2 separate regions of the Homo sapiens genome follow, and region 2 is linked to region 1. The links come from fine-mapping of genetic effects on gene expression. Tissue or cell type: whole blood. Region 1 holds a variant in brackets; the other region holds the start of a gene. Each region is shown on its reference strand, or each on the opposite one.

What was found. PIP is the estimated chance that this variant, and not a neighbour inherited with it, causes the effect.
Region 2: CNN1 starts here. The variant in region 1 is the best candidate, but not a certain one, in a credible set for the expression of CNN1 in whole blood (TOPMed, PIP 0.61).

The regions. Positions count from the first base shown.
Region 1 is chr8:105,560,325-105,576,255 of GRCh38, reverse strand. It overlaps ZFPM2 (zinc finger protein, FOG family member 2), which reads right to left. Exons shown (of 8, transcript NM_012082.4): 4 at 14,775-14,893. Among named protein-coding and RNA genes, the nearest start is that of ZFPM2, 250 kb to the right of the region's middle. The variant T/A (reference allele first, on the strand shown) is at 6,956.
Region 2 is chr19:11,528,559-11,544,489 of GRCh38, reverse strand. CNN1 (calponin 1) reads right to left here and starts at 5,639. Exons shown (of 7, transcript NM_001299.6): 1 at 5,500-5,639; 2 at 3,293-3,414. The coding sequence starts at 5,562. It overlaps ECSIT (ECSIT signaling integrator), which reads left to right and starts at 15,356. Exons shown (of 8, transcript NM_016581.5): 1 at 15,356-15,428. RefSeq lists enhancers at 2,830-2,949, 5,723-6,668 and silencers at 4,614-4,663, 8,092-8,461, 8,472-8,541.

The DNA of each region.
Region 1 (15,931 bases):
CTTAAAGATACTTAAACTTTACAGTGTATTGACTTGATGCCCACTTTTCTTGACCATGTTTACTAATTGCTCTGCGTATATATTATTACCGTGTGCTGTAAGATAGTGGTTCTATTTTGCTGGAGCTTTAGCTGTCTTTTTATTTTTTCCTTCATGGGTAGGAATGATTTTATTTTAGCTGTCCTAGGAATAGCAGATCCGTTTCTAAAGCTCACTAGAATTTTCTTAGCTGTATGAATTATGTTTGAAACATTTAATGTGTATTTTTTAAATGCAGAGTAAAAATAGCCCACTTATTCCCCTTTCAAAAATCTCAATAAATAACAAAGGTACATTAGGCTCCAAAACAGCTTAACTGAACCATATGTGGATCCAAAGGCCTGCCAAAATGGAATCAGCATTATGAAAGATAGCTTCATATTTCATCTAGCCATAAAATAGGAACCCACAGTATATAAAATGTACAGGCCACTTGTACAGAGCTCATGATGACAGTGAATTGAACACTCATTGTCAACAGAATAAAAGTGACCTAATACATACTCTGACAGGTTTCTTGAGTTTGGATATTTTTTTTCTTTTTCTGTCTTTTTGACCTGGATTGACTAATCACAGATTATGGAGCAAATGACTTAAAACAGCATCTTGAACCTATGCCCCTATGACAGTCACAGAATTTTACCATTAAAATATTTCATTAGAAAATCTTCAAGAAGCAGCAGAAGGTTTGGCACTGAAGCCTTAGGATCCCATTAAGGGCCTCTGCCATATTCCCTAGCTCATCTAGTCCAAAACAGCACACTCCACTCCCACGGAGTCTCTCCAAAGCCATTTTGAATCCTCTTTTCCCTTATCAGGCTGATACAGACCTGCATCATCCTCGGAGCCTTCTGACAGGGGCTACAACAATTGGGGAAAGGGAGGGGGGTGATACAACGGCTCATTGTTTCCTTTCACAAAACCCTGCCACAGGGCGCAGATTAACACCAAAAAATAGATGGCTGCAACCAAAGAGAAACATTTTTCAGAATGCCTCCACTTGATTAATGAAGTAATGGAGCCGACCACTGTTTGACTTTCATCACGCACTCTTCCTCCCTCACCCCTTCTCCTCCCGGAATATCAGCAGAGGCGGGGGGACACTTGTGCACATGTCTGCCTCCTTTGAAGAGTTGTCATTTTCACAAAGTTTTGAAGAAATGCACCAAGAATAACACTGCCTAGGTTTCTTGCTGAAAATATTCAGATAAAGGACAAATTTTCTTTCCACCACTTCTGTACTTCTTTAATAAAGGCAAGTGCTATTTTTTTTTTTCCTATAGGAGCTGAATTTAACATGTACTTGGGTCCTGATGCCTATCTCAGATGCACACATGGATATAATTGGGTACCTTTAAATGCACTAATATGCTGCGTGTGCCTGGGCAGCAGTGGCTTTCAGAGGAGAGGTGGTAATGCCGCATCCGAGATTAGGATCAGAACCTGAGGGACTCTTACTGCTCCTGTCTGCGGGGTAATGCTTACACTATTACACATAGGGTAATGAGGTACAAATGGTATTTGTTTGACTTCTTAATAAAAGCTAAAACTTAAGGCACGTGACGTGCCTCTGCTCTTCCAAAACTCTGTCCCCATTTCTTCATATTTCACAGTACATCACTGTCTGCATTATGACTGCCTTATTCACTCCATTCTGTATGGAGCTCTAAAATGCCATAAATAATGAAAGAATTGAGTTAACATTTTAAAATACAAACCTAACTCAAAAGTGAATCAGACAGGGTAAATTACTTTTCCAATTGTCTGAAATCCCCAATCACACACCTGAGAAATGCTTTCTGAAGAATAACTCCCTACAAAAAGAAAACTCAAAGAAGCCAAGATCATTCAAAAGGCAGTTTGACCACTTAACCTTTCTTTCTCTTCCTAAAAATATGTGTTTTTCCTCTATGGTGACTGTCTGCTTAGATGATAAATGCACTAAGTCCATACCGTTTACTTATCTAGGCTATGAGTTCTCAGAATATTCATGCCAGCTAATCAGTAAGCATGTGTGTGTATGGATACGTGTGAGTACACGTATATGAAGCTATATTCGTATGACAACAAAACCTGCTTTTTAAAGTATGTTTAGGGAGAGAACAGAAGAGAAAAGACTAGATGCACTGCTTGGGGAATTAAAGGAATGAATCATTTACTTTCTATTCACAGGCATAATAAAAGGAATCCAGGTTTGTTTAACAATCTGTATGTTTTTCAAAGTGACTAAATGCGTATAATTTTATATAACTTTACAATTCTATGTTGTAGGGCTGGTATAATAACCCCTATTTTATAAAAGAGGAAACTAAGAGCATGTATGATTACCCAAGATAGCACATCCACTTTGAGTAATAACAGGACTAGAATCAGGCTGTTCTGACCCCATCACGGGCTCTTTCCCATACTTTCTCTCCCACTTTTGATCTTTACAGTGTGTGGGTGTATATTTCTCAAAATTACCAAAGGAGAAGAAACACTCAGCAAACTACTTTTGATCCCCAATTCCCACCAAATTTTTGTACAAATCACGTTTTGTATATTTTAATTTGTCTTTATTGCAAAATTAATATCTAAATAAATTAATCAGGAAGCCACTGATCACAGATGTGAGAAACCATAAATATTTTAATGAATAATAATAAAATATACCTCATTTTCACAAATGTCTTTTACTTATTAATCTTTGATTTTGGTTATGATGCTGTATAGCATACAGTTTTGTTGTCTGTATTCAAGTTCACTGAATTTTCTTTTGTGATTGCTCCCATGGCTCTTGGTATTTGAAAGTCCTTCCCTATCCACAGGTCAGGTTAACTACTTATGCAAATTACCTTCTGTGGCAGACAGCCTCTGAGTTGGCCCCCAGTCATCCCAGCCTTCTGGTTTCAAGCTCTGCACAATTCCCTTCCCTAGAATTCAGCAAAAGTGATAGGATGCCACTCCCATGATTAAGTTACCAAAGCACTGTGGCTTTTGTCTTGGGCTCCCTGTCCTATGCTCTCATCTGCTTGCTCAGAGGGATGCCAGCTGCCATATTGTGAGTGGCCTTAAGTAGAGGCCCACTAGGCCAAGCACTGAATCAAGAGTCATTTGAGTGAGCATGTAAGCAGATCCTCCACTAGCTGAGCCTTCAGATGACACCAAGACCTGTCTGTCCCCTTGATTGAAGCCTTGTGGGAGACATTATGCCTGCGACAAGTTGTGCTCATTATTTTTAACCATCAGAAAAGGAACTAAAGTGTATGAGAAGAAAACCACAGACCAACCTACATAACTCTATGCTTTAGTCTGGTTTCCTGCCATTAAAAAATAGAAAGTGATACAAAATGGCACAGAAGACGCTGAAATTATTAGAATCAAGAAGCCACAGTTTTGTCAAGCTGGGACAAGGGGTTTTATGAGAAAATTGAAGTAAGAGTCAATGAATAATAAAGAACAACTTTAGGCTGGGCACGGTGGCTCATGCCTGTAATCCCAGCATTTTGGGAGGCCAAGGCACGCAGATCACCTGAGGTCGGGAGTTCTTCGAGACCAGCCTGACCAACATGGAGAAATCCTGTCTCTACTAAAAATATAAAATTAGCCAGGCATAGTGATACATGCCTGTAATCCCAGCTACTCGAGAGGCTGAGGCAGGAGAGTTGCTTGAACCTGGGAGGCGGAGGTTGTGGTGAACTGAGATCACGCCACTGCACTCCAGCCTGGGGAACAACAGCAAAACTCTGTCTCAAAAAAAAAGAACAACTTTAAATTCAATATTTAAATTAACAGGCAAAAATATGTTAATCTCCAAGAGAGTTTCTCAAATAATTTCTCAAATTTCCAAAGTATGTAATAAATATTACTTTATTATTCTCTTATTAGAAATTTATGCAAGAGGCTAGGTGTGGTGGCTCACGCCTGTAATCCCAGCACTTTGGGAGGCCAAGGCAGGCGATCACAAGGTCAGGAGATCGAGACCATCCTGGCTAACACGGTGAAACCCCATCTCTACTAAAAATACAAAAAATTAGCCAGGTGTGGTGGCGTGCACCTGTGGTCCCAGCTACTCAGGAAGCTGAGGCAGGAGAATGGCATGAACCCGGGAGGTGGAGCTTGCAGTGAGATGAGATCGCACCATTGCACTCCAGCCTGGGCGACAGAGCCAGACTCCGTCTCAAAAAAAAAAAAAAAAAAAAAAGAAATTTACCCAAGAATACTTGCCCCTGGACCACCACACAGCATCAACACAGAGCTTTATAGCAGTGGCTTGGAAAGAGTCACAAACTTGCCAATGCTAGGAAAACCTTATATGATAATAAAGGTTGTCAATGCCACCTGAGAGCTACAGTTAAATTATGAAACTTGGTGAATCCCATCCTGGGAATATTTATTGAAAATTAGATTAAAACCAGAGTCCAATATGTTATCAGAGTTTGACAAAGCATTATCCCTAAGTAATTTTGATTTTTAAGACCAAACTGAAGGAGTACAAACTGGTACCTATCTCCATTCTCTCTGTTATCATCTCCAAGTTACTGAATGTATTAATTGTCATGTCAAGCTGAGATTGATGCTAAGTCCTCATAATGCTGGCACAATATTTGTTACAACCATGTAAGCATATCCTGCCAAACTAATTGTTTTGAAATCAGTATAGAATGACAATTCCTCAAAAACATCAAATAGAAAGAATTTAAAAGGCATGCCAGACCTATCAGCACATAACAGAGGACAGTTTGGTCAACTCCATGAACAACTCTTCCTCACAGTGCTTTGTTACTTCTACCTTCCCCTCCAGGGAAAACTACATTTCAAGATTGATATTTTAGAATTTGTGTTACAAAAACAATAGTTATGCTTTACAAACCACTTCCTCACTAGTCAAGATGGTGATAGATTTCCCTAGAGAGGCAGGGATGCTATATATCCACCCACTTCCACCTTAGGCCTTCATGATTCTGTTTTTGGCAAATACGAAGAAATGACAGTAGCAATGAAATCTGCATTAAGAAAATTCATGTAAGGATCCCTATGTGTGGGAACAATCACAACTCCCACAAACAGTATCTGGAGCTATAAATCAATAGTGATTCTTCATCCTTCACACCGATCCTCTGTGGGAAAAGGTTATGTGACTCATTTGTCTCAACTTTACACACATAGAGTGGATCAGCTTTGATCATCTTATGATGACATAAACAATTCCTCCTTTCAGAAATTAATTAAATTAATAGCACTAATCGTCCTAATAACTGAAAAGATCATCTTCAACAAAAGTTCTCCTTGGAGTTCTGGGAAAAGGGAACAATGAATAATCTTGTAAAAATAATTCTTTTTAAAAGTTCAAACTTGGCCTAACTAAGGGTAAATAGGTTTAGCCATATAAACCAAAGGCCAAAATGTATTAAAATTTCAGGCAGAGGAGAGTAAGTTAGGTCCATAAATAAAATTGTCTATGTATAGCAAGGAATTGTGTTTCCACCTTTCAAATCCAAGTCCAAATGTAAAGAACCTGGAAAGACTTCACCATCAGGAGAAAAAGTAAGTCAGGATGAGATTGAGGTTAACAGGCTAGCTATACACAAAAGGTATTATTTTGGAGGCAAGTAAAAATTATCAGGAAGGGCACAAATTCAGGTTTTCATTTCAATACCATTGTGCCATATGACAATGTATTTTCATCCACTGCCAACATCATAACTATATCTGCATTATAACACAGCAAATCCCTTCAGATTAATATGCAATTGACCTCTCTGGCTTCTACATATTTCAATTGTGAAATAATTCTTCGGTGTTTAATTTCTTCCTTTCTGACTCACATTCAATAGCAGGCCTTTGATTACTGAGGCCTCCACACAAACTTCTTTCTCCTCTTTCCCTGAGTAATCCCCCTCCATCAAAAAAAAAATAAATAAAAATAAAAATCAATAAAACAACAAAAACCCTACCCTAATTCTAGAAACCAAACCAACGCATCACTTTCCAAGGCTCTGCTGCATTACATTTCTTGCCTTCAAGTCTTCTTTGAGCAGCTTTTCTGTCCACTCAGTTTCCATTAATTCTCCACATAGCAGATAGAGTATAAGAGAAGCCAGGATCTTGCCCTCCCTAAGGGACAAATCTACAACCTCCATCAATAATGAATTTCACCAATGTTTCCCAAGAGGAACAGGGTACAATTAAAAAGGTTATAAGTCCTTGCACTACTAGAACCTAAGGGCGTCTGTGAATGAAACTGGCTTAAGCCCAATTAGAGGAATCAGTACATTTGTCTTCTCTTGGAACAATCTTGCTCTTACGGTTCCCATCAATTCAGTATAAATCTGACTGATCTTATCCAAGAAGTTAATAGAAAATTGCTCACAGTGGGCGACTGCCACCTCAGTTTCCAAGCAGAGACAGATGGAATTTCCCAGATGGTTTGTCACTGGAACGTGTGAGGCTGGATGAGACTTCACAGAAAGCATGGTAGAGCAGAACACCTTCTTGGCCTTCACCCATGTCATAGTGAGGGATCTAAAACTGAGTCTGTTGTAAACAAATCATAATTGCCTCACTAGGCGCAACACCTCATCCTCCTAGCTGCATCCAAGGGTTGCAAATCTTACACCGAAATTAGTCAACTTTTCTCAAGAAACCATCATGGGCATATCTCCTTATGAGATAAAAACTGAAGAAATAGACATAGTTATCTTGTCCTACTGAAGTTTCCTCTCAAACGAGACTAAAATAAAAGTGCAAGTCTATAAACAAATAAAACAGGTACAAGATAGCATTTCCTGTGGTAATTGCTCTGCTGAGTTAGGCAGATGAAGCAAGATCACAGACGAAACAGACATGGATGTAAAGCCTCAGGAAGGATGCAGGGTCTTGAATAAGGAGGGGTGTGCAGCTGTTCCTGATATGGAGAAAAGTGAAAGGAAAAAAT[T/A]AATGTGCTGATTCATTCAATGTTATTCATTGAGCTCTTAGTATAAGCTAGACATTGTTCTAAGTGGGAAGGATAGAAAGATAAAAAATAGATAATAAGCATATGGTCTGCAGGGGAGATAGACAAGCAAACAGGAGCTCACAGTTATGTGATCAGTGCTCTTATCCTAGTAAACCTAGAGCACCAGGGAAATACTCCAAGAGTGGTTATCTATTCCAGACAGGAGGCTTCAGAGAAGGTCTACCTTGGAAGTGACTTTGAGCAGAGTCTTTAAATAAGTATTGGACTTAGTGAGATGAAGAGAGATAGGTGGGGAGGGGGGAATAGGGGTTTCCAGGAGGATAAAACAGCATGACCAAATGTACGGATGTGGAAAAAAAATGGACATTCAGGGCACTGCATGTAGTTCAGAATGCCTAAAGTCTATAAGAGAGTGGAAAAGGGGTCAGAACTGGGGAGGTGAGCATCACCTGGGGAGGTGAGTAACAGGAAGGCCTTTTTTAGGCTTTACCAAAACCTTGGGGTATTCTCGTGCCCTTTAGAATGATTTTAAAGCACAGGAGTTAAGTGACTACTGTAGTTTTGCTTTCAGGACATACTGTGGTCTGAGTAAATAAAAAGATGACAAGAGAGAACAGAAGAATATTGTAATAATCAAGAGAGAAGCGGTGGGGCTTTCGACTAAAGCAGTGGTAGCAGGACAGAAAGAGGAGAACAATCATTACGAAAGCAGGAGTTATGATGCTTGGTTTCTGGACATGAAATGGAGAGTCTTGGAAGATGTTTGACTCTGAATAGAAGGAAAAAGAGATGGTAGTAGTTACAGGCAAAAGGAGAGAGGTATGGGTATGTGTAACTGTGTGTGAATAGCATTTGAGATGTGAGAAGGAGAGGTAGAAATGCAGAAAAGACACAGGATAATTGAGAGAATGGACTCCCTGCAGAGGTACGAAAGGAGAGGCAGAGGACTAGGATTAAAGGTGACTGAAAGCTGGAAGTCATGGAAAAGAGAGGCTGTCTGTGGAGACAGGAATAAACTCTCTTTGTGACTGTGTAGTTGGAGGAATTAAATGGGAAAGCTTGCAAAACAGTTGAAATGTGCTATTAGAGAAAGGGTAAAAAGCCAAGGTTAGAGATTTTTTTATTTAAATGTCATTTGTAAATTAGTAGCTGAAGCTTTGCAAGTGGATAAGCTCCCTGAGGCACTGGGAACAGAGGGAGAAGAGAAGAAAGGCCAGAAGTGTTTTGGGAAACACTCACAGTTAAATTAAAAAGAGCTAAGACCCAGAGAGATATGAGAAATAGGAAAGTATGGTAGTCCTGAGCCCAGATTAAAATGAATATTAAGAAGGAAGATATCATTCACAATGTCAACATCAATGAAATCTGAGGCTCAACAAAAAGTCATGCCTCAGCAAAATTATAAATTATGCCATTGAGATGGGAAAGATGGAGAATATGGGTGGAGTCAGTGAGAATGTTCCTGATAAGCAAATTCAATTCGATTAGATTTTTATTTTAAAGAGCAGTTATTGAATACCGATTATGTACCAGTAGTAGAGGTCCAAAATTGAATAATAAAGATTAAATAATTCTATGTCCTCTAGAATCTCAATAATAATTTGGATATTGCTTTTAAATTTATTTCATTATTACATCTTAGAGGCTGTCTTAGTATGGATTCCCCAGAGGCTTACCCTGAGACTGATTCAAATACAAGTAGTTTACTGGGAAGTTGATCCCAGAAAATTCCAGTAAGGTTGTGGCGAAGTAAGCAGGAAAGGGAAGAGGTCCACAAAATGTTCACTATCAAGGCAATCAGAGCTCAATTCCACTGCCAAACTCTAACAGACAATATAGAACACATCTTATATCCTAACCAAGAGGAAGGGAAGCGGAGGTGTTAGTCCACCAACTTTCTGTCCATCATTGGTTGAGGATAACCTTTGGGAATAGGAAATCTCCAGCACTTCCAGCTTTCCCAGCTTGCAAGGAGTTTGCTCTTAACGCTGGAAAAAAGTGCTCAGGTAGAAAAGTCACAGGTGTGCCCACTGAGCAGCCTTTGCCTATAGAGGTGAATGCTGGAGACATAGGTAGAGATATATTTGCTACAGGATATGTACAATATGAAGCTTGAAGACTAGCAATTATTAAGATAAAAGATGAATACTGGAAAAGATAAAACTGCAAAGGGATAAATGGAGGCAATTAATAATTCTAATTATAAGCAGGTAGATCAGGAACTTCTAATTTTTTCCTTAACCACATTTCTATAAAGATGACTATCTTAAAACTTTTAAGATGCAATTTGATACATGCATTATTTCATTATTAGGTCAACAAAATATCTATAGTGCCCTTTATATGTATATTTCATTTTTTTAAAAAAAATTCAGTATCACAAATACCCTGTGGGAAAATAATACATTTTATTCTGATTGAACAGAATAAAATGAGATTTCTCTGTCAAATTTCATTTGTTGAATTTAACAGGTTGCGATGAGTTTACTATTATGTTGTAAGTAATCTGGGGCTTTCTATTTAATTAACTATGTATGTTGTATGATTCCAGCAGTTGGCTGAATCCAATCAGAATAGTTAGCTATCAACAGTTGATAATATTTAAAAGCAAGAGAGGGCAAACGCCATTTAAATTTCAGACACCCAACCTTCCAAGTAATCACTGTTGCTTGATACTTGCTAAGCACTACCACGTGCTAGCACAGCTGAGATTTAGTTTATTGCAAGGATCTTTGTCCTTGGGAGAATATGGGGAAAATCTTCAAAGGTACAACATATAAACATAGATGTTCTAAAACACATCCAAACCAGATATTGATCAGAACTTAAGGTGATTTTTAAAATTTCTTCCTCATCAGTAGTCCTTTGATTTTTTTTCAGTGAATAAAACTGCAAAACTTTCAAAAACACCAAGTTTGTGCTACCATGATAGTATTTAATATAAGTTATTTCTGAGATATGAGGTGAGATGCTGGAAAGAAAGCTGGGCTCCCTCACTGGTATCAATTTTTTCAGGGGTATAAGGTCATACCTCAAAAAACTGAAACTTGCAAGGTAGTGCAGACCTTCGGAGCCTGTGATGGTTCATTTTAATTGCCAACTCACAGGGCGTTTCTGAATGAAATTAACATTTAAATCAGTGAACTCTGGGTAAAACAGACTGCCCTCCAAAATATGAATGGGCCTCACCCAATCAACTGAAAGCCCGAATAGACCAAAAAGACTGGCCTCCCTGCAGACGAGGAAATATCCCAAAGACCGCTATCGAACTTCATCTGCACCACTGGCTCTCCCGGGTATCTCATCTGACTGAGTACTGCAGATTTTGTACTTCCCAGCCGTCATAACTGGACAAGCCAATTCCTTATAACAAATCTCTGGCTATATACGTACACATCCTGTTGTTCTGTTTCTCTGGAGAATCCTAAGACAGAGCCCTTGGCAAACAGTCAAATTTAGGCATGTAAAAATCCCCTAACGCCAAGGTTTATAGTGTTACTTGTTTAATTTAAAGAGTGCTTTTTGCTTTAAAGTTGAAAGATTTCAATGGGTTCACTTCCACAGATTACTGACTAGTAAAAGTAGTTGAAATGTGTGGATAACTCACATATGCTATCTCATTTAGTCCAAAATTCCTATAAGCTAGGCAGTATTATTATTACCACATCACAGAAAACATTTCTAAGACTGGAGCATGTGTTATGGAATCAGACTGAGTTGACCTTAGGCTAGTTATTTAACTTCCCAAAGTAGCAGTTTACGCCTCTGCAACAAAGGAGATAAATATTATCTTCTCTTGCACTTGTGTAAGAAGTAAATATGATATAAAACATGTAAAGCACTTTGACCAGTATCTGGCCCAATGAAAGTATTTACTATGCTGCTGCTGCTATTATAAAACTTTTAAAGCATGAAGTATCTACCAAGATAATAAGGTGTGGACAAAAGATACTCTATTTCTATGTTCAGTGTGTTATATAATTCCAAGAACAACTTTTTGTCAAACTAATTTGTTTGGTGTTTCTGTGTTTTTTAAAATGTTCTATATACATCTAAATGCCTGGTCTGCAAAGGCTTCCTGCAGAAGGTGGCATATTGCTAATGTACTTGAAGATGGGGACTTGAAAGATATAAAAAGGATTTGACATCTGGCATGGTGACTCAATTAATTACTGTGTTGGATTAATTAGTGAGCTGAATCTCCCGAGCCAACACCATGAGTTTGAGCAGAGTAACATTACATCAGTTGGCGAATAAGCAATTTAAGAGAGTGCGCTAATCCAAATTTGATTCAAGGTTGGGTAGGGAAGGGGTAGTAGGCTATATATTTTATTATAAGGAATATTTATGATTTCAAATACATATTATAGTACTGTCCAAATTATGAGAGGTAACAAAACTCCAGAAGTCTTTGAATTAACTTTTAACTGCTCAAGTAGTCTAATTACATAATAAATATTTTGCCCATCGGGGAAAAAAAGGTATATTTCTAATTTTTGCATACTTCCTCCCAGAGATTTTTATAAATTTATGATTCATGTTAAGAAATCATCAACAATTTTATCATGCTCAAATCATGTTACAGATGTTATACTGAGAATGCAGTGTGGCAGAGTCTTTAAAAAAGCAGACTCTCGAATCAGAAGTGAGAATTTTTATTTTCTTATCTGTAAAATATGATTTATGATAGAACCAAATTCACAGGTTTTTTGGAGGACTAAATGAGCTAATCTATTTCCATTTTTCAGACATATATGTTAACCAATTTGATGTACAGTAGTAACAGTAGTAGGAATAATAATACTAGTAGTATTTAATGATATAAACTCAGAAGTAAATTTTGGAAGAGGATGTTATTTCAAAAGAAAAACATTTGAAAATATATTTTAGTGAGGCAACTAAATTTTAAAATAAGGAAAAATGCTGTATTTTAACTAAATAAAATAATCTGATATTTAAAGCCTAAGACAAAAGAAGAAAACTGAAGTATTAAAATTGTTTTCTATAAATAATAATCACCCATTACCCAATTGTTGATAAACTTAAGAGTAGTCATGTTTTAAATAGTATCAAAAATTCTGAAAATTTCATATAAGTTAACGCCTTTTAAAAATATTAAATATGGCATAAAATAGCTTTACAGTCATATAGAACTATTAAAATAGCAAAATGACATCAACTGTCTAAAATCAGAAATTATTTCAATGAAAAATAAAAAAATCAAACTTTCTCAGACAGGTTTATCTTCTATCCATCACGATTTAGCATATGGTAAAAATGTCATAAAACTACCATTCTGTATACATACAGAGAGTAATAGCAAGATTAATCAAAAATAGCATTTTAGTAAATATATCCTTTTAATATAGTAAACTGGAAAATGTTCATCTTGCATGTCAACTATAGCTGATACAGTGTCAGTACACTTTTGAAGAAATATACAAATGATTAAAGGTTGCATTGGTATCTGATACACTGTGATAAATAAGATAAATATGATATAGTTTAAAATGTTTAGTAAGCAATGCTAGAAGACAAACAGAAACTCCCAGATAAAATAAGTTCAGAATAGCATTTAATTCAATCTTTGATGTTTAGACAATCCTTCTCTTGCCTTTCTTAACATTCATTAGCTTGAGAAATGGGCACAGTTAATATTGCTCTCTGAAAGGAATCAATAAAACAATCTGTTAATACAACTCAATCAACTGAGGCCTGCATTTTGTGGCTACATCACAAATCTCTTTTGAAGTAGCTGCACTGGTCCACCTAGAACAAATTGCCCAGAATATTAAATATTTGGTCTGGACTGTAAGGTCAACTTGTTTGGTCCTTAAATGTATGTGAAAACCCCTACTTCATCCTTTTATGGATAAATACATGAATGTACAAAGTAATAAATATACCCCTGGGATCTCATGCACTCTTTAAAAGTTTGGTAACACAAATATTTCCTATTTATTCTAATCATTACTTTTAGTTGAACCAACAACCTCTGTCACATCCACATGGTACTGAATAAACGGAGATCCACATGTATCAATTTCTTTCATGTAATAACTTGAAGAAGGGATTTCCTTCATGTAATAAATCAAAAAAGGAATGTAATGTTGCTGAACCCAGTACACCTGTCGAAACCCCTCTGGGAGTTCTTATGTCCCTTTAGCATAGATAGGGTCATTTAAAAGTCACAAGACTGTTCCTACATAAATGGCATTTAGAGAGAAGGACTTTCAGGGGAATAAATACTTATAAAATTTCTGGATCCTCTAAGGAATATGAAACATTTTTCTTCCCAAATTTCATCACCTGTGTTATCACTTATTATAAGAGAGGTTTTCAGCTATTGTTTTTCTTTTATCCCATGTGGTAGGCAGAATAGCTCCTTGCAAAGATGTTTACATCCTGACCTCTAGAACTTGCGAACATTCCTTTGCATGGCAAAGAGAAATGAAGGAAGCAAATGGAATTGAGAGTGTTAATCAGCTGACCTTAAAATAGAGAAATTAGCTTAGACGACCCAGGCAGACACAGTGTAATCATAAGCATCCTTAAATGTGTAAGAGGGAAGCAGAAGAGTCAGAGATGGAATGTGGACGTGCGAAAGACACCATCAGGCCCTGGTGGCTTTGAAGATGGAAGGGGGTCTATGAGGGAAGGGCCACGGGCAGCCCTCAGAAACTGGAAAAGGAAGAAAACAGATTCTCCTATAAAGCATCCGAAAAGGAGTTCAGACCTGCAGACACCTTGATTTTAGCCCAGTGACACCCAATTTGGATTTCTGACTTCCATAACTGCAAGATAATAAGTTTATGTTGTTTTAAGGCACAAAGTTTGTGGTGAGTTGCTGAGGCAGGAATAGCAAACTTATATATCCAATTAAGAAATAAAGTTTAAATGTAACCAAACTACCTACCTTTCCATTTATTTATTTATTTATTTATTTATTTATTTATTTATTTATTATTTTGAGATGGAGTCTTGCTCTGTCACCCAGGCTGGAATGCAATGGCACGATCTTGGATCACTGCAGACTCTGCCTTCTGGGTTCAAGCAATTCTCCTGCCTCAGCCTCCCGAGTAGCTGGGACTACAGGCACCCGCCACCATGTCTGGCTAATTTTTTTTTGTATTTTTAGTAAAGATGGGTTTCGCCATGTTTGGCCAAGCTGGTCTCGAACTCCTGACCTCAAGTGATCCACCTGCCTCAGCCTCCCAAAGTGCTGGGATTACAAGAGTGAGCCACTGTGCCCAGCCTCCATTACTTTTAAAACATCTAATTAATCAATAATCCACATAATCATGGCAAGAGATAGACTTTCTGTTCTCAGAACTTTTACAAAAAAGCTGAATAACAAAAATTATAATGCTGACCACTCATCCCTGCTTTTAAAGGTACAAACAGTATTACCAAGGAAAAACAAAGTTGTTTATTTCTTGTTCTTCATGAAAACCTGTAATGGATGACAATTTGTGTCATCTGAAAAATAAAGGCAATTTTATATATTACTAAATGTGAACAGTCTTGGTCTGGCTAAGCAGATAAAGCAATAACCTTACATATTACCTTACTAGCCACAATTTAGTATGAGTAACCTGTTTCTGTCTAAATTCTGCGTATATTACTGTCAGACACAAACCACTTGAAAAGTATCCAAGTTTTGCTGTCCACGAAAAAGCAAAAACAAATGGTTATTTTTAGTGATTTCATTGGAAAGCAAGCAGAGAGAATTTCTGAGCTATGGCAAAATACTAACAGTCGATGACAAAATATTAACCATCTCGGAATATCCACATACCAAAGAATTATTATTCAAGTCCATCTTCCCAGGAAACGGCCCCCAGGTTGTTCCCACTGGAAGTTGCTGTCGACTCTGAATTTTTCGTTCCCCATCTTTCTGAAACACCTCCAGCTCTCCTGCAGACAAAGGAACAGAAGTGTTTAGAATACTTACTTGTACTTTATCAGCAGCCACCTCTTTTTGTGTGTTTGCTTTACACACATGATATTCTCAGGATTCATATAAAGAGAATTAATTATGCTTGTCTGAAAAACAACTCATCTTAACCTGAGAGGAAAATAAAACTTGTCCTTATAAATTGTATTCAAATTTAGTCCAATTTCTTCCTTTCACCTTTTCACATGCATCATCTACTGAAGCCAATTCTTTTTAGTTAAGTCTTTAAGAACCAGAAACAGTAACACTCCCTTAAAAAGCACTGATCCAATGCCAAAACAGGTAGACAAGAAACAGTAGGACAATCATTTTGTGCTAAAATTCTTGTATTTATTCAAGACTGTCAAACAACAATATCTGGAGAGTTTTTGAAGTACTTGGTAATTTTCTGAAATTGACTACCAGTTTCAATAGGTAAAATGGCTACATGTACAATATATAGCAAGGCATGTTTTTCAAATAAAAAATGTTTAGACGGAGTTTTTACTTGTTTTTCTGTATTTGGTATACTGAATAGAACTCTATTGTACCAAAAAAATACTTTAGAAATAACCAGCTTTGGAAGGTCTTCTTCCTTTCATTTACTCCAGAGTAATATTTTGGAACCTATAAAGGGAAATAGGAAGTAAAGACAGTATACACACTTGCATAAAGTAAGAATTCATTAAATGCTTGCTTAAGAAATAAATGAATGGAATAATATACAAATAAATAAAAGAGGGCCTCAAAATTTCAAAAAAAAAAAAAACGGCCAATAGCTTAAATGTTGTTTGGGATAGGTAGAAAAAAAATCACAATCAGGACTTGCAGCCTGTCTTTAAAATAATTATATCTAGGATATTTATTCCCCAAAGAGTATTACCATGCCATATCACCATACTAAAATGTTTATATTTTAAAAATTTTATCTCAGTAACCTAACTTCATTGTGTTTTAATGTTATTTATTTTCAGCCTGATCAACAGCAGACATGAGAATATGAAGGAATGAAACAGAAA
Region 2 (15,931 bases), not on the chromosome of region 1:
TAAATAAATAAATGAAATAAAATGCCCTCCACCATCTGACTCTCAGTTCACTCTGCGACTTCATCTCCACTTCTGCTCAATCATTTGGTGCTCGTCACGCCAGCCTCCTTCTTGTTTCTTGAACACCCCAAGCACGATCCTACCTCACGCCTTTGCACTGGTGGCCCCCTCTGCTTTGCCTCAGGTCCCCTGAGCCCTCCCTCACTTCATCTAAGGTTCTGTTCAAATGTCACCTCTTCAGAGAGGCCTCCCAGACCACTCTCTAGGAAACTGCAGACTCTCCACCCGCAGACATATACCTGACCCTCCCATCTTCCCTTCCGCTTGAGTTTTCCCCAGGACACTTACGACCACAAATCTGTGATTATTTGATCAATTATATGATTGATCTCCTCAACTGGACTAAAAGTCCTTGAGCTCTGAGTCGAGTCTGTTCTGTTCACTGTTCCCAGTGCCTAGGCCAGAGCCTGGCACACAGCAGGAACTCATAAATGCTTCTTTTGTGAATGAATGAATGAATGAATGAGTGAATGACCGGAGTGCGTGGGTGACTGCACTACACTCTTTTTTTTTTTCTTATACTTTAACTTCTGGGGTACATGTGCACTATGTGCAGGTTTGATACATAGGTATACATGTGCCATTTTGGTTTGCTGCACCCATCAACTCGTCATTTACATTAGGTCTTTTTTTTTTTTTTTTTTTTTGAGACGGAGTCTCGCTCTGTCACCCAAGCTGGAGTGCAGTGGTGGGATCTCGGCTCACTGCAAGCTCCGCCTCCCGGGTTCACGCTATTCTCCTGCCTCAGCCTCCCGAGTAGCTGGGACTACAAGCGCCTGCCACCACGCCCGGCTAATTTTTTGTATTTTTTTTAGTAGAGACAGGGTTTCACCGTGTTAGCCAGGATGGTCTTGATCTCCTGACCTCGTGATCCGCCTGCCTCAGCCTCCCAAAGTGCTGGGATTACAGACGTGAGTCACCGCGCCCGGCCCACTCTTTTATTATTATTATTATTATTATTATTATACTTTAAGTTCTAGGGTACACATGCACAACGTGCAGGTTTGATACATAGGTATACATGTGCCATGTTGGTTTGCTGCACCCATCAACTTGTCGTTTACATTAGTTTTTTTTTTTTTGAGACAGGGTTTCACTGTTGCCCAGGCTGGAGTGCAGTGGCGCGATCATAGCTCACTGCAGCCTTGACCTCCAGGGCTCAAGCGATCCTCCCACCTCAGCCTTCCGAGTAGCTGGGACCACAGGCGCATGCCACCATGCCAAGCTAATTAAAACAAAAATGTTTTGTAGAGATGGAATCTGGCTATGTTGCCCAGGCTGGGACTGCACTGTTTGACGTCTGAGCAGTCCTCTGCCTGAGCTGGGACACCAGCATGCCTACCTCCCCACCTGCCAATTCCTTGTTCCTAGTGGATGGGAATGGAACAAGGTAAACACCCCCCACACCCCTTCTTCCCAGCATCTAGGACTTGATGAAGCTGCACCTTCAAAGTCTTCCCGAGGCCACTCACAGTCACTCTGCCCTGGGTCAGACTCAAATGCAGATCGGGCGCAGGCTGGGTTTAGGGCCCTGCTATGCATTAAGATTGCAGTGGAGCCGGGCGCGGTGGCTCACGCCTATAATCCCAGCACTTTGGGAGGCCGAGGTGGGTGGATCACAAGGTCAGGGGTTCGAGACCAGCCTGACCAACATGGTGAAACCCCGTCTCTACTAAAAATACAAAAATTAGCTGGGCGTGGTGGCGGGCACCTGTAATCCCAGCTACTCAGGAGGCTGAGGCAGGAGAATTGCTTGAACCTGGGAGGCAGAGCTTGCAGTGAGCCAAGATCATGCCACTGCACTCCAGCCTGGGTCACAAAGCAAGATTCCATCTGAAAAAAAAAAAAAAGATTGCAGTGGAACTGGGGCTTGGGAGCTGTTAGGGTTTTCACCTCCCTCAGCAATGAGGTTTTGAGGCGAGGAGAAAACCAGGGCCGGCAGGGTGCAGTGGTTCATGCCTGTAATGCCAGCACTTTGTGAGACTAAGGCGGGTGGATCACTTGAGGTCAGGAGTTCGAGACCAGCCAGGCCAACATGGCAAAATCCCGTCTCTACTAAAAATACAAAAGTTATCCGGGCAAGGTGGTGGGCACCTGTAATCCCAGCTGCTCAGGAGGCTGAGACACAAGAATCACTTGAACCCGGAAAGCAGAGGTTGCAGTGAGCTGAGATCATGTCACTGCACTCCAGCCCGGGTGACAGAGGAAGACTCCATCTCAAAAAAAAGAAGAAGAAGAAGAAGGTCGGGCGAGGTGGCTCATGCCTGTAATCCCAGCAATTTGGGAGGCCGAGGCAGGTGGATCACTTGAGGTCAGGAGTTTGAGACCAGCCCGGTCAACATGGTGAAACACTGTCTCTACTAAAAAAAAAAAAAAAAAATACAAAAATTAGCCAGGCGTGGTGGCATGTGCCTGCAATCCCAGCACTTTGGGAGGCCAAGGCAGGTGGATCACTTGAAGTCAGGAGTTCAAGACCAGCCTAGTCAACATGGTGAAACTCCATCTCTACTGAAAAAAAAAAAAAAAAAACAAAAATTAACCGGGCATGGTGGCACGTGCCTGTAATCCCAGCACTTTGGGAGGCTGAGGTAGGTGGATCAATTGAGGTCAGGAGTTCGTAACCATCCTGGCCAACATGGTGAAACCCCATCTCTACTTTAAAAAAATACAAAAATTAGCCAGGCATGGTGGTGCGTGCCTGTAATCCCAGCTATTGGGGAGGCTGAGGCAGGAGAATCACTTAAACCCTGGAGGCGGAGGTTGCAGTGAGCCGAGATTGTGTCTCTGCACTGCAGCCTGGGCAACAGAACAAGACTGTATCTCAAAAAAACAAAAAGAAAACAGAAAGAAAACCAGGGCCTCCTTTAATTATTGCTGCACATCTCTCCTCACATCACCAAGCCAGCCATGAACAGCTGTTGGCTGCTGCCTTTTAGCTGTGACCGCTCTTTCTGGGGACTCTGGCGGCCACAGATGGGCCTACCCTATATAGCATGGTGGTTAAGATTCTAGAGTCATTTCCCTTGAAACCACGTGGGACTTGGTGCAATGCATTTCACCTGAGCCTCAGTTTTCTGTGCCTGTTAAATGGGCACAATGATTACTGGCCACCCCAAAGGTATCCAATAGAAAGTGTTCAACTCAGTTCCAGGATCATGGTTGTTTTGGGGGTTGAGGGGCTGCATGGAGTTGGGGGATGTTGCAGGGTCTCGGCTTCGAGAGCCTCACTCACTCGCAAAGAATGATGCCATCTTTGAGGCCGTCCATGAAGTTGTTGCCGATGCGACGGCCTGTCACCCCCTCGATCCACTCTCTCAGCTCCTGCTCCCGCTGGTGGTCATACTTCTGGGCCAGCTGGGGCGAGGGGAGGGCAGGGGGCACAGAGAAAGGGGTGAGGATGCATTGGGGGCAGCCTGGGCTCCCTGGGTCCTGTCTGAACTTCCTAGAGCCTGATCTCCCTCGTCCTTCCCAACTAAGGCAATTTTGCCCCAGATCCATAGTTGGGGGATGGGGGCTGGGGCGGGCTGAGAGCCAGGGCTGAGGTGGCACCTGCCCAGGGGGCCATTCCGGGCATTCTGAGGTTTGGCACCAGGGAATGTAGATGAGGGGTGGGGTGTGGGGAGCTGGATCCTCTGAGCTAGAGGGGTGGCACCCGGCACCCTGGTTTTTCGCCCAGGCCAAACTTGGGGCTTCTCTTCCTCTAGCCCTGCCCCCTCTGTGCCCCCTGTTGGAAGAGAGGGCACCTCAGGAAGGGAAGAAGGATGTCTAAGGAGGTGTCCCTGGGTGCTGGCTTGCAGAGGAGTGCTGGTCATACATCTCTGTCTCTCCGTGTCCCCCAGGTCTTCAGCTCCAGGGCTCTGTCTCTGGTTAGTGGTGGGGGCTTGTCTCTGTCTTAGCCCCCACCCCTTGCACGTCTGTATGTCTCTCTCCCTCTTATCCCCCCGACTCCTCTGTCTCTCTCTTCCCCAGCGCTGTCTTTTCTTGGCCCAGTCTTGGGTCCCCATCTCTCTAGGTGGCTAGTCCCTGTCTGGCCAGGGGTAGGGCTCCTGGGTCTTGTATATCTGCCTCTCTAGGTCTTTCTCTGTCTCCAGGTTTCCTGCCTGGGGTGGGGGTGGTGGGGCTCTGTCTCCTCTCCCTGCCCCTCCATCCTTGTCTAGGTCTTATCTCGCTCCTGGCTCGCCCTCCCCCGTCTGTCCCTAGGGTGTCTCAGGCTCCCAGTATCTCTGTCTGCCTCTCCCCCCACCTCCCTGCTTTTCCCTCTCTCCACTGTCCCCCCCCTCCCCCACTCCACTCCCATTTCTCCAGAACCCTCCGCCCAAGCCCAGCCAGGCTCCCAGCCCCTAGGGGACCGGGCTGCCTCTTCTTCTCCCGGGTGAGTGGGGGGAGGTGGGAGGGGCGGCCCCCTCACCTGGCCCTGGCCCTGCCGCCCCCCACGCCACCAGCCCGGCTTTATAAAGCAAACCGGCCCTTATATAGCGTGGCCCGGGCTCCCCGAGGCCGCCTTATAAGGCGCGGCGTCTCTGCGCGGCTCTGCGCGGCTCTGGGGCCGGCGCTGGGGGGGAGGAGGGCGGCGCTGGGATCTGTCTCTCGCCCGAGGACCCGCCCCCCACCAGCCCCCTCCTCCAGCCCCGAGATCCCTCGACCCAGGTTCCAACCCAGTCCCCCACTTCCTCACCATGGGACCCTGGGAAAAGCCACCCTGAGCCTCAGTGTTCCCCTCTGTCAAATGGGGCAGGAACTCCTCCCTCGGCAATACTGTTGGGGCGATTCCAGTGGGCTGGAAACTTAAAGTTCTCCAGCTGGGAGAAGCTGAGCCCATCCTGGTGTATGGGGGGTGAGTCCAGGGTCCGAGCGCTGTACCTGCTTTACCTGGGACCCCAGCTATTTGCCTCTCCTCTCCGAACCTCAGTTTACCCAACCATAGCATGAAGGTGGTGTCCAGGTATCTTCCTAGCTCCACAGTCAGGAGACCCCTGCCGCACTTCTGATGCCCGCTTCCTGCCTTTCACCGTCCCCCTCTGTCTTCAGGATCTCCCACACTTTCACGGCGTCACTTCCCAGGTACCCCAGCACTCAAGCGCTCCCCAATTTCTTTGTCAGGCCGGGGGATATGGAAAAATCAACAAGTCTTCCCCCTATGTTGTTCCCCCCAAGAACACGAAGGGTTAACAGAAGACTGATCAGGTGGGTATCTTTGCAATGGACTGACCCCCTCTGTTTATGTGTGGCTGTGTGCCCCCCCATTCCAGCCCCAACCATAGCTGGGGGCTCCGGGATGTTCAGGGGGAGACAGGCAGCCCCTATCCCATATCACTCCCTTTTCCCCTCTCAGTTTCCAAGTCACATAGGATAGGCAGGAGGGGGTTCAAGGGACCCCAAGCTCAGGGCTCTGGCCTGGCAGGACGTGTGGGCCAGGCCAGGGAGGCCCTCCAGCCCTACCTTGTTCTTAACCTCGGCTGACAGCCCGTAGGCAGGGCCTCGGTTGAAGTGAGCAGAGGACATGCTGGCCGGTGGGCTCTGGCGGGGGCAGTGGCGGCACTGACGCTGAGAACAGAGGCAGCGGCTGAAGTTCCGTCTGCACACTCTTCCCTCCTCACATGTTTTTGAAGCTCCGGAGGCGACCCGGGTCTCTTCCAGGGCCGTTCCATTGGCTGTAGGGGCCTGCCAAGGGGCGGGGCACCTCCCCCCACAACCTCAGCTGCCTTCCCCTCCCCTTGTGATGTCAGGCCCTTGGTATTGGGAGCTGATTGTGTCATTGTTTCCACCTAGGGGGGCAGCCTGCGTTATTCTGGGGGGGCTTGGTCAGACAGAGACCAGCCTTCTTCCACCCACCCCTCCCACTGTCCATTGGGCCTCTGGCTGGGTCTGAGTCTCTTTGTCTCTGAGGTCATCTCTCTTTATCTCTCTGGAGTCTTGAAGCAGGACTGACACCCAAGGTAGTTTAGTGAGCACCATCCCGGGTTTATCTCCAGATACCAACAGTCTATAGCCTTAGGTAAGCCCCTTCTCCTCTCTGGGCCTCTATGGCCACATCTGTAAAATGGGCTAACGATAGTGCCTGCCTCATGGGAGAGTTGTAAAGATCAGAAGAATATGCCTGTTACATGCCCAGCACAGTGCCCGGCACAGCAGAGGGACTCGGGCCATAGCAGTCTTTTTAAGGCAAGGTTTCACTCTGTCCCCTCGGCTGGAGTGCAGTGGCACAATCACAGCTCACTGCAGCCTTGACCTCCCAGGCTCAAGTGATCCTCCCATCTCAGCCCATCCAAGTAGTTAGAATTGCAGACTTGTGCCACCAACCTGGCTAATTTTATTTTATTTTTTTAGAGATGGGGTCTCGCTATGTTGCCCGGGGTCTCGCTATGTTGCCCAGGCTGGTCTCAAATTTCTGGGCTCAAGCAATCTGCCCGCCTTGGCCTCCCAAAACGCTGGGATTTACAGGCATGAGTCACCATGCCCAGCCTATAGCATTCTTTATGCTGAGGGTCCAGCACCCCAGTTCTGTCTCCTCCAGCCCCTCATAAGGACCTGGGGGAGAAGAGATCCTGGGTCTCACCCTCCCCATCCACTTGTGTGTCACCTGAACTACAGGGTGACTTTGTTGGCAAGTCCCAGGCCGTGAACTGTGTCCCTGTCAAACAGCCCTACCCAGCCAGATCTCACCCCTGGACCACAGGGGTGGATGCTATGCCCACATCATGCCCCACATGGCAAGGCCATGTTTGTGACACTTGGATGACATGTCTGCAACCTGCCACACACTAATGATATGTTGAGGATATGCAGTTTATCGGTCACATGCTAATGGCATGGCTGCAATATGCCACAGACTACAGCCCTTATGTCAGGCCATGTTCCAACTCTGTACATATATCCATTCAATTCTCATGACGCCCTCAGAGATGGACACTGTTATTATTATTATTATTATTATTATTATTATTATTTGGAGACAGAGTCTCTATTCCCCAGGCTGGAGTGCAGTGATGCTATCTCGGCTCACTGCAACCTCCACCTCCTGGGTTCAAGCGATTCTCCTGCCTCAGCCTCCCAAGTAGCTGGGATGACAGGTGTCTGCCACCACGACTGGCTATTTTTTGTATTTTTAGTAGAGACGGGGTTTTGCCATGTTAGCCAGGCTGGTCTCGAACTCCTGACCTCAGTTGATCTGCCCACCTCGGCCTTGCAAAGTGCTGGGATTACAGGCGTGAGCCACCGTGCCCAGCTGACACTGTTATTATTAATACAAGTACTTTGCTTTACAGGTGGGGAAACTGAGGCACGGGGGCTTGGAATCACTTTTTCAGCGTCACACAGCAGGCCAGGGGCAGAGGAGAATTTGAGACCATGCTCCATGAACCTCAACTATGAGGCTAAGGTGGGGTTTCTCAACCTCCACACTGTTGACAGCTGAGGCTGGATAATTCTTCATGGTTGGGGGGCTGCCTTGGGCATTCATTGTAAGACTTCAAGCAGCATGCCTGGCCTCTACCTGCTACATGCCAGTAGCACTCTCTTAGTCCTAATAAACAGAAATGTTGAGGCACTGCGGCAGGACCCTGTAGTCCCAGCTACTAAGGAGGCTGAGGTGGGAGGATCCCTTGAGCCCAGGAGTTTGAGAACCATCTGGCCAAGATAGCAAGACCATGGTCTCTAAAAAAGAAAAATTAAAAGAAGAAATGTCTACACACATTGCCAATGTCCCATGATTGGGGTCGGGGTGGAAGCAGATCACCCCTGTTTGCCAACCACTGAGCTAAGGCAATGTGCTAGTTGATGGCATGTCATGATATGTTGAACATACACGAAAATACATAAAATACGAGGCCAAGGCGGGAGGATCGCTTGAGCCCTGGAGTTCGAGACCCGAGACCAGCTTAGGCAACATAGCGAGACCCCGTCTCTATTTAAAAAAAAAAAAAAGAAAAAATAGAAAGTACATAAAATGAGCTAACAATTAGCACCTGCTACGTACTAAGAGCTTTGAGCCTGTTAACTCATTCCTCACGACAGCCTTATGAGGTGGGTCTATACGAGGCACAGAGAGGTGACGCCGAATGGCCGGGTCACACAGCTCGAGGGTGGCAGGGGCGGGATTCGAACGCGCAGATTCCTGGATCCCTCCCAAACTGAGCGGCCCTCGGGGGCCGCAGTTCGCTACTGCGCATGTGAGGACCTGCAGCCGGCGCCCCCTGGCGGCCCGGGAGGGGCGGGGGCGGGACCTGGCGAGGTCCAGGCGGCGGTGACGTCACGCGATGACTCACTCGGCCCCGCCCCCCGGCCCGCGGCCTCTTGGCCATTTATAGAATCTGCACGGACTCTGAAGTCACGGCCCAGGCACGACGGGGGCGGGGTGGGGGAGCTCTTGGCGTGCCCCCCAACGGGGCAGCCCCGGGTACCCCCAGGGGGCAGCCCTTTCGGGGACTGCCTTGTCCCTCTGATTGTAGTAGGTCTGTGTCTCTGTATCTCCGTCTCTGGGTCGCTGAGCCTTTTTCTGTCTCTGCCTTTGTCTCTGTGTCTCTGTTTCTGTGCCTGGTCTTTGAGTCATTCTGTTTCTCTTCATGTCGCTGTCGCTGTATTGTCCGTCTCTCTTCGCGTCTCTGTCTGGTAGATGGGGGTAGAGGCATTAGAGGGGGCTGATCCCATATCGAGGCCCCAATCCCAGTAGACACCCGAGTGTCATCCCTTATTCGCTCCTTTCTGGCATTTTCCAGGCTCTAGCCCCTCTGTGCCTCAGTTTACCATCTAAATGAGAAGTGTAGGATCTTGTAAGAGGCACGGTTTCCCGAAGGGTCTAGGACAGTCATTGTAGGAAAGCCATGCCTCTCCTCAACTTCAGGGGACCCCCTAAAACCTTCCTGATGCTCAGAACCATTTAAAACTCACACTTGGCCGGGCGTGGTTTCTCACGCCTGTAATCCCAGCACTTTGAGAGGCCAAGGCGGGTGGATCACCTGAGGTCAGTAGTTCAAGACCAGCCTGACCAACATGGTGAAACCCCGTGTCTACTAAAAATACAAAATTAGCCGGGCATGGTGGTACATGCCTGTAATCCCAGCTACTCGGGAGGCTGAGGCAGGAGAATTGCTTGAACCCGGCATGTCAGGCAGAGGTTGCAGTGAGCCAAGATCACACCACTGCACTCCAGCCTGGGCCACGGGAGTGAGACTCTGACTCAAAAAATGTAAAAATAAAAATAAAACCCACACTCACACGTGTTTGTCTGTGTGTTTTGGGGAAAGTCAAAGCCCTGCTCTGCACCGGCCTATCTTGGCATCCTGCTCTGCAAGCTCCCTCCTCACGAAGCTTTCCTATCCAGAAATCTGGCAGAGGCTCTTGTTCCTAAAGGCTTCTGTTATGGGAACACTCACTCCATGCCAGCCACAATCTCTTTTAATCCTCACCATCACCTTCTGAGGGTAGAAACTCATAGGTCCATTTTATAGATGGGAAACTCAAGGTTCAGAGAAGCCAAGCCACCCTCCCAGGTAACACTGTTTGTACCTTTTCTTCCAAGTCCCTCCAGATGTGCTGTTTCTTCTTCTTCTTCTCCCTCTTCTTCTTCTTCTTCTTTCTTCTTTCTTCTTTCTTCTCCTTCTCCTTCTCCTTCTTTCTTCTTTCTTCTTTCTTTTCTTCCTCTTCCTCTTCCGCTGCTGCTGCTGCTCCTTCTCCTTCTCCTTCTTCTTCCTCTTCTTCTTCCTCTTCCTCTTTTTCTTCTTGTTCTCCTTCTTCTTCCTCTTCTTCTGCTGCTGCTTCTCCTCCTCCTCCTTCTTCTTCTTTCTTCTTTCTTCCTTCTCCTCCTCCTTCTCCTTCTTCCCCTTCTCCCTTCTCTCTTCTCCCTTCTCCTTATTTCTTCTTCTTCTTCTCCTTTTTTTTTTTTTTTTGAGTCAGAGTATCGCTCTGTCGCTCAGGTTGGAGTGGCATGATCTCGGTTCACTGCAACCTCCACCTCCTGGTTTCAAGCAATTCTGGAGCCTCAGCCTCCCAAGTAGCTGGGATTACAGGCACCCGCTACCACGCTGGGCTACAGATGTGTTTCTTGAGTCCCCAAACATGTTCCCACCTCAGGGTCTTTACAATAGCAGTTCCTGCCACCTGGAACACATTTCTGCAAGATGCCTGCATGGCCTCTCCCCAACTTCATTCAGTCTCTGCTCTAATATCACCTCTCAGAGAGGCCTTCCCTGACCACCTGCTGTAAAATAATAGCATCTCTCACCCCCAGACTGACTGTGAGTGGGTGGACAGGGAGGGAGCTGTTCACTTATAGTCTGGGTGCAGTGGCTCGTGTCTGTAATTCCAGCACTTTGGGAGGCCAAGATGGGCAGATTGTTTGAGGCCAGCAGTTCAAGACCAGCCTGGGAGACATGGCAGGGCCCTGCCTCTACAAAAAAAAAAAAAAGAGAGAGAGCTTTTTAAAAAAGTGCATTTTGGGAGGGCAAGGCAGGAGGATTGCTTGAGCCCAGGAGTTGGAGGCTACAGTGAGCTATGATCATGACACTGCTTATTTTTTTTTTTTTTTTTTTTTTTACAGAATCTCACTCTGTCACCCAGGCCGGAGTACAGTGGCATGATCTCAGCTCACTGCAACTTCCACCTCCCAGGTTCAAGCAATTATCCTGCCTCAGCCTCCTGAGTAGCTGGGATTACAGGTGCCCACCACCATACCGGGCTAATTTTTGTATTTTTAGTAGAGATGGGGTTTCACCATGTTGGCCAGACTGGTCTCGAACTACTGACCTCAGGTAATCTGCTTGCCTTGGCCTCCCAAAGTGCTGGGATTACAGGCATGAGCCACTGTGTCCAGCCATGCCATTGCATTTTAGTTTGGGTGAAAAATAAATAAATAAGAAAAGAAAAGAATGCTTGACGGCCGGGTGTGGTGGCTCACGCCTGTAATCCCAGCACTTTGGGAGGCCAAGGCAGGCGGATCACGAGGTCAGGAGATCGAGACCATCCTGGCCAACATGGTGAAACCCTGTCTCTACTAAAAATACAAAAAATTAGCCGGGCGTGGTGGCGGGCGCCTGTAGTCCCAGCTACTTGGGAGGCTGAGGCAGGAGAATGGCGTCAAGCTGTGGGGCAGAGCTTGCAGTGAGCTGAGATCGTGCCACTGCATTCCAGCCTGGGCGACAGAGCGAGACTCTGTCTCAAAAAAATAAATAAATAAATAAATAAATAAATAAATAAATAAAAGAATGCTTGACAACATGTAACGCAGAGGAGGCTGTGGGAACATTGTTGATGAGTGTGGGCAATTTGTTGATAGTTTCCCAAATGACAAATGTCCTTACCTTCTGAACAAGTATATCCTCTATTTTAGAATATTCCTCAGAAGTACAAGTGTAGGTGTGAAGAATGACATATGTACAGGAACATTTATTGCAGTGGCCTTGTCATAATAAATCACTATAAATCCCATCAACCTGGGACAAGGGAGATAGACAAAGTTGAAGTTAAAACATATAGCATGTTGTTTCAACTAAATGAAGACACTGTAGCGCTGTGGTTAAGAGTGGGGACTCCAGCTGGGTGCAGTGACTCACGCCTGTAATCCCAACACTTTGGGAGGCTGAGGCGGGTGAATCACCTGAGGTCAGGAGTTCAAGACCACCCTGGCCAACATGGTAAAACCCCATCTCTACAAAAACTACAAAAATTAGCTGGGCGTAATGGTGGGAGCCTATAATCCCAGCTACATGGGAGGCTGAGGCAGGGGGTTTCACCATGTTGGTCAGGCTGGTCTTGAACTCCTGACCTTGTGATCTGTCTGCCTCGGCCTCCCAAAGTGCTGGGATTACAGGTGTGAGCCACCGCATCCGGCCCATTGCGTTTCTTTCTTTCTGTCTGTCTGTCTGTCTGTCTGTCTGTCTGTCTATCTATCTATCTATCTATCTATCTATCTATCTATCTTAGAGATGAGGTCTCACTATGATGCCCAGGCTGGACTTGAACTCCTGGGTTCAAGTGATCCTCCTGCCTCAGCCTCCTAAATAGCTAGAACTACAGTGCCACTGTGCCTGGCCCTCATTGCATTTAATTGTCATATCTCCATACATTCCTACAGTCTATAATAGTCCCTGGGTCTTTCAGGACCTTGACACTTTTGAAGAGTGCTGGTCAGTTATTTTGTAGACTGTCTTCGAGTTTGGTTTGTCTTGAATAAACTGAGGTGTTTGCATTACCAGGAAGAATACCAGAGAGGTGATGATGTATCCTTCTAAGTGTGTCATACCAAGGGCTTCATGATATCACCATGACTCATTGCTGGTGATATAAATGTTGGTCCCTTGGTTAAGGTGGTGTCTGCTAGGATCTTTCACTGTGAAGCTACTACTTTTTATAGGGTTCTTTCTGGGACTGTAATGTTAAAGATTCTGCACCAGGGCCTCACATATGGTGTTCTGTGTTAATACATACAGTACATAAAATATGTACATTCTTGGTTTTTTTGTTGTTGTTTGTCTGTTTGTTTTTTTGAGATGGAGTCTTGCTCTGTCGCCCAGGCTGGAGTGCAGTGGTGCAGTCTCGGCTCACTGCAAGCTCCGCCTCCCGGGTTCACACCATTCTCCTGCCTCAGCCTCCCGAGTAGCTGGGACTACAGGCGCCCACCACCACGCCTGGCTAATTTTTTGTATTTTTTTTAGTAGAGACTGGATTTCACCTTGTTAGGCTGGATGGTCTTGATCTCCTGACCTCGTGATCCACCCGCCTCGGCTTCCCAAAGTGGTGGGATTACAGGCGTGAGCCACCGCGCACGGCCTGTACCTACTTGTTTTTAAAAGACTACTGGCCTGGTGTGGTGGCACATGCCTATAATCCCAGCACTTTAGGAGGCCAAGATGGGTGGATCGCAGTACCCCAGGAGTTTGAGACAAGCCTTGGTAACATATTAAGATCCCATCTCTATTTTAAAATAATAATAATAGGCCGGGCATGGTGGCTCATGCCTGTAATCCCAGCATTTTGGGAGGCCGAGGCTGGCAGATCACGGGGTCAGGAGATCAGACCATCCTGGAGAACACAGTGAAACCCCGTCTCTACTAAAAATACAAAAAAATTAGCTGGGCATGGTGGCGGGCGCCTGCAGTCCCAGCAACTGGGGAGGCTGAGGCAGGAGAATGGCGTGAGCCCAGGAGGCGGAGTTTGCAGTGAGCCGAGATCGTGCCACTGCACTCCAGCCTGGGCGACAGAGCAAGACTCTGTCTCAAAAAATAAATAAATAAATAAATAATAATAATGACTGGGCACGGTGGCTAATGCCTGTAATTCTGACACTTTGGGAGGCTGAAGCGGGAGGACTGCTTGAGCCCAGGAGTTGGAGACCAGCCTAGGCAACATGGTGAAACTCCATCTCTACTAAAAATACAAAAATTAGCCGGGTATGGTGGCATGCGCCTGTAGTCCCAGCTACTCGGGAGGCTGAGGCAGGAGAATTGCTTGAATGTGGGAAGCGGAGGTTGCAATTAGCTGAGATTGCACCACTGCACTGCAACCTGGGCGACAGAGCCAGACTCCGTCTCCAAAAATAAAATAAAATAAAATAAAATAAAATATTAAAAGACTAGTTCTGGAAGGATAAATAAGAAAACAAAAGCCATGACCACCTCAAGAGAAGGACACCAATAACTCTGAAGGCCACAGCCAGGTCAGCGACCCCATCATCTTACCCACTCCCCAGCTAAGCAGAGCTGACTCTGCTTGCTTGTAGCTGCGGGAGCCTGGCAGAGGGCAGTAGCGCTCCCAGCCGCTGCCCACGTGCCTGTCAACTTGCCAGAGAGGAGTGCTCCAGCCAAGCAGCTGATTGGCTACAGGTTTTCTCAGATTGCCCAATCACAAGAGTTCTGATGAGGTGGATGTCCTGCGGCTGCGCAGAGTCCTTGAGGCATCCTAAGGGTAGGTTCTTGCATCCTAGTCTCCATGCCAGCTCACTGCGCCACAGAGGCTGAGGGACTGCAGAAATGGGCTTATGAGGGCAGATAGCCTTCCTTCCCGGGGGACACTGTTATTGCCAATAGCCCATTTTATGTGCTTATCCACCTTAGTTATTAACAGCCTAAATCTGGTGCTTTCTGGGGGAGACCAGGAGCCCCCATTACTCAATCTCACCTCGTTTTATCCCATTTCCTCCAAAGACTCCACTCCGACCACACAGAGTCTTTGCTGTTGTTCCCAGTGCCAAAAGCGTTCCCCAGATATCCAGATGGCTCACTCACTTCCTCCGGCCTTTACTCAAAGGACACCTCACTGAGGCCTTCCTATTTATTTATTTACTGAGACGGAGTCTCACTCTGTCGCCCAGGCTGGAGTGCAGTGGTGCTATATCGGCTCGCTGCAACCTCCACCTCCTGGGTTCAAGCAATTCTCGTGCCTCAGCCTCCCGAGTAGCTGGGATCACAGGAGCACGCCACCACGCCCCACTAATTTTTATTTATTTATTTATTTTTTGAGACAGAGTCTCGCTCTGTTGCTGAGGCTGGAGTGCAGTGGTGTTATCCTGGCTCACTGCAACCTCCGTCTCCCGGGTTCAAGCGATTCTCCTGCCTCAACCTCCCGAGAAGCTGGGATTACAGGCACCCACCACCATGCCCTGCTAACTTTGTATTTTTAGTAGAGACGGGGTTTCATCATGTTGGCCAGGCTGGTCTCGAACTCCTGACCTCAGGTGATCCGCAGGCCTCGGCCTCCCAAAGTGTTGGGATTACAGGCGTGAGCCACCGCGCCCTGCCCTATTTATTTATTATTACTATTTTTAGAAACAGGGTCTCACTCTGTTGCCCAGGCTGGAGTGCAGGGGTGCAATCATGGCTCGCTGTAGCCTCGACCTCCAGGGCTCAAGCGATCCTCCCGTTTCAGCCTCCCGAATAGCTGGGACTATGAGCATGCGCCATCATGCCCAGTTAATTTTTAAATTTTTTGTAGATAAGGGGGTCTCGCTATGTTGCCCAGGCTGGTCTCGAACTTCTGGCCTCCCAAAGTGCTGGGATTACAGGCATGAGCCACCGTACCGGCCCCCTTTCACTTTTTGTTTTTTTTTAATTCATTTTCTCATTTCAGCCGCTGGGGCCTGCGACTGGATTCATAGACTATGACTCCCAAGTCCAGCCTCCCGGGCCATTTCAAGGTTCCCAGGTCTGGAGTGCGTCTTGCCTCATTAGAGGCTGGGCCTGGCTCGTTATGAGGCGGGTCCCAGATCCTTCCGCCTTCCTATTGGCCCACCTCGCGTTGTGGGCGGGACCTATTACACCAGCTTTCTTGATTTGCTACCTCCCTGGAGCTCCCTGACCCGGACGCTCTCTGGGCCAATATGGCAGCGCCCAGCAACAAGACAGAGCTGGCCTGGAGTCCGCGGCTGGCCGCGTGAGTAGGTAGGTCGCGCGCGGGTAGGCGAACGCGAACTGCTGGGCTGCAGGCGGGCCCTTCAGGACCCGGCAGCGCGAGAGGGCAGCCCTGGAGGGACCCAGCTGCAGGGCCAGGGCGCCATGACCTTTCGTAGTGGGGGCGGGGACGCGCTGGGAAAGGCCGCCTGTCTTGTGCCAGCCGCCTCACGCCCCCAGTCTCCCATTTTGCAGATGACCTCGCGAGAGGTCACGCCGCAAGTCGGCAACCGGGCAGGATTTGGAATCCGCGTCTGCCTTTTTCCCCCAAGAGACCCAGAATCCTGGCAGCCGGTTTCAAAGCTGTTGTACGTACACCATACCTCGGGGTTCAGATTTATAGGTGTTTTTTTGAAATTGAGGCTTGTTTCCGTTCAGTTGTTACTCGTTAGGCATCTGTCATATACCAGGCACTGTCCTTGGTGCTGGAGACACAGCAATGAGGAAGATAGATAAAAATCTCTCATCTCCTGGGGGAACCAGACTTTGAACAA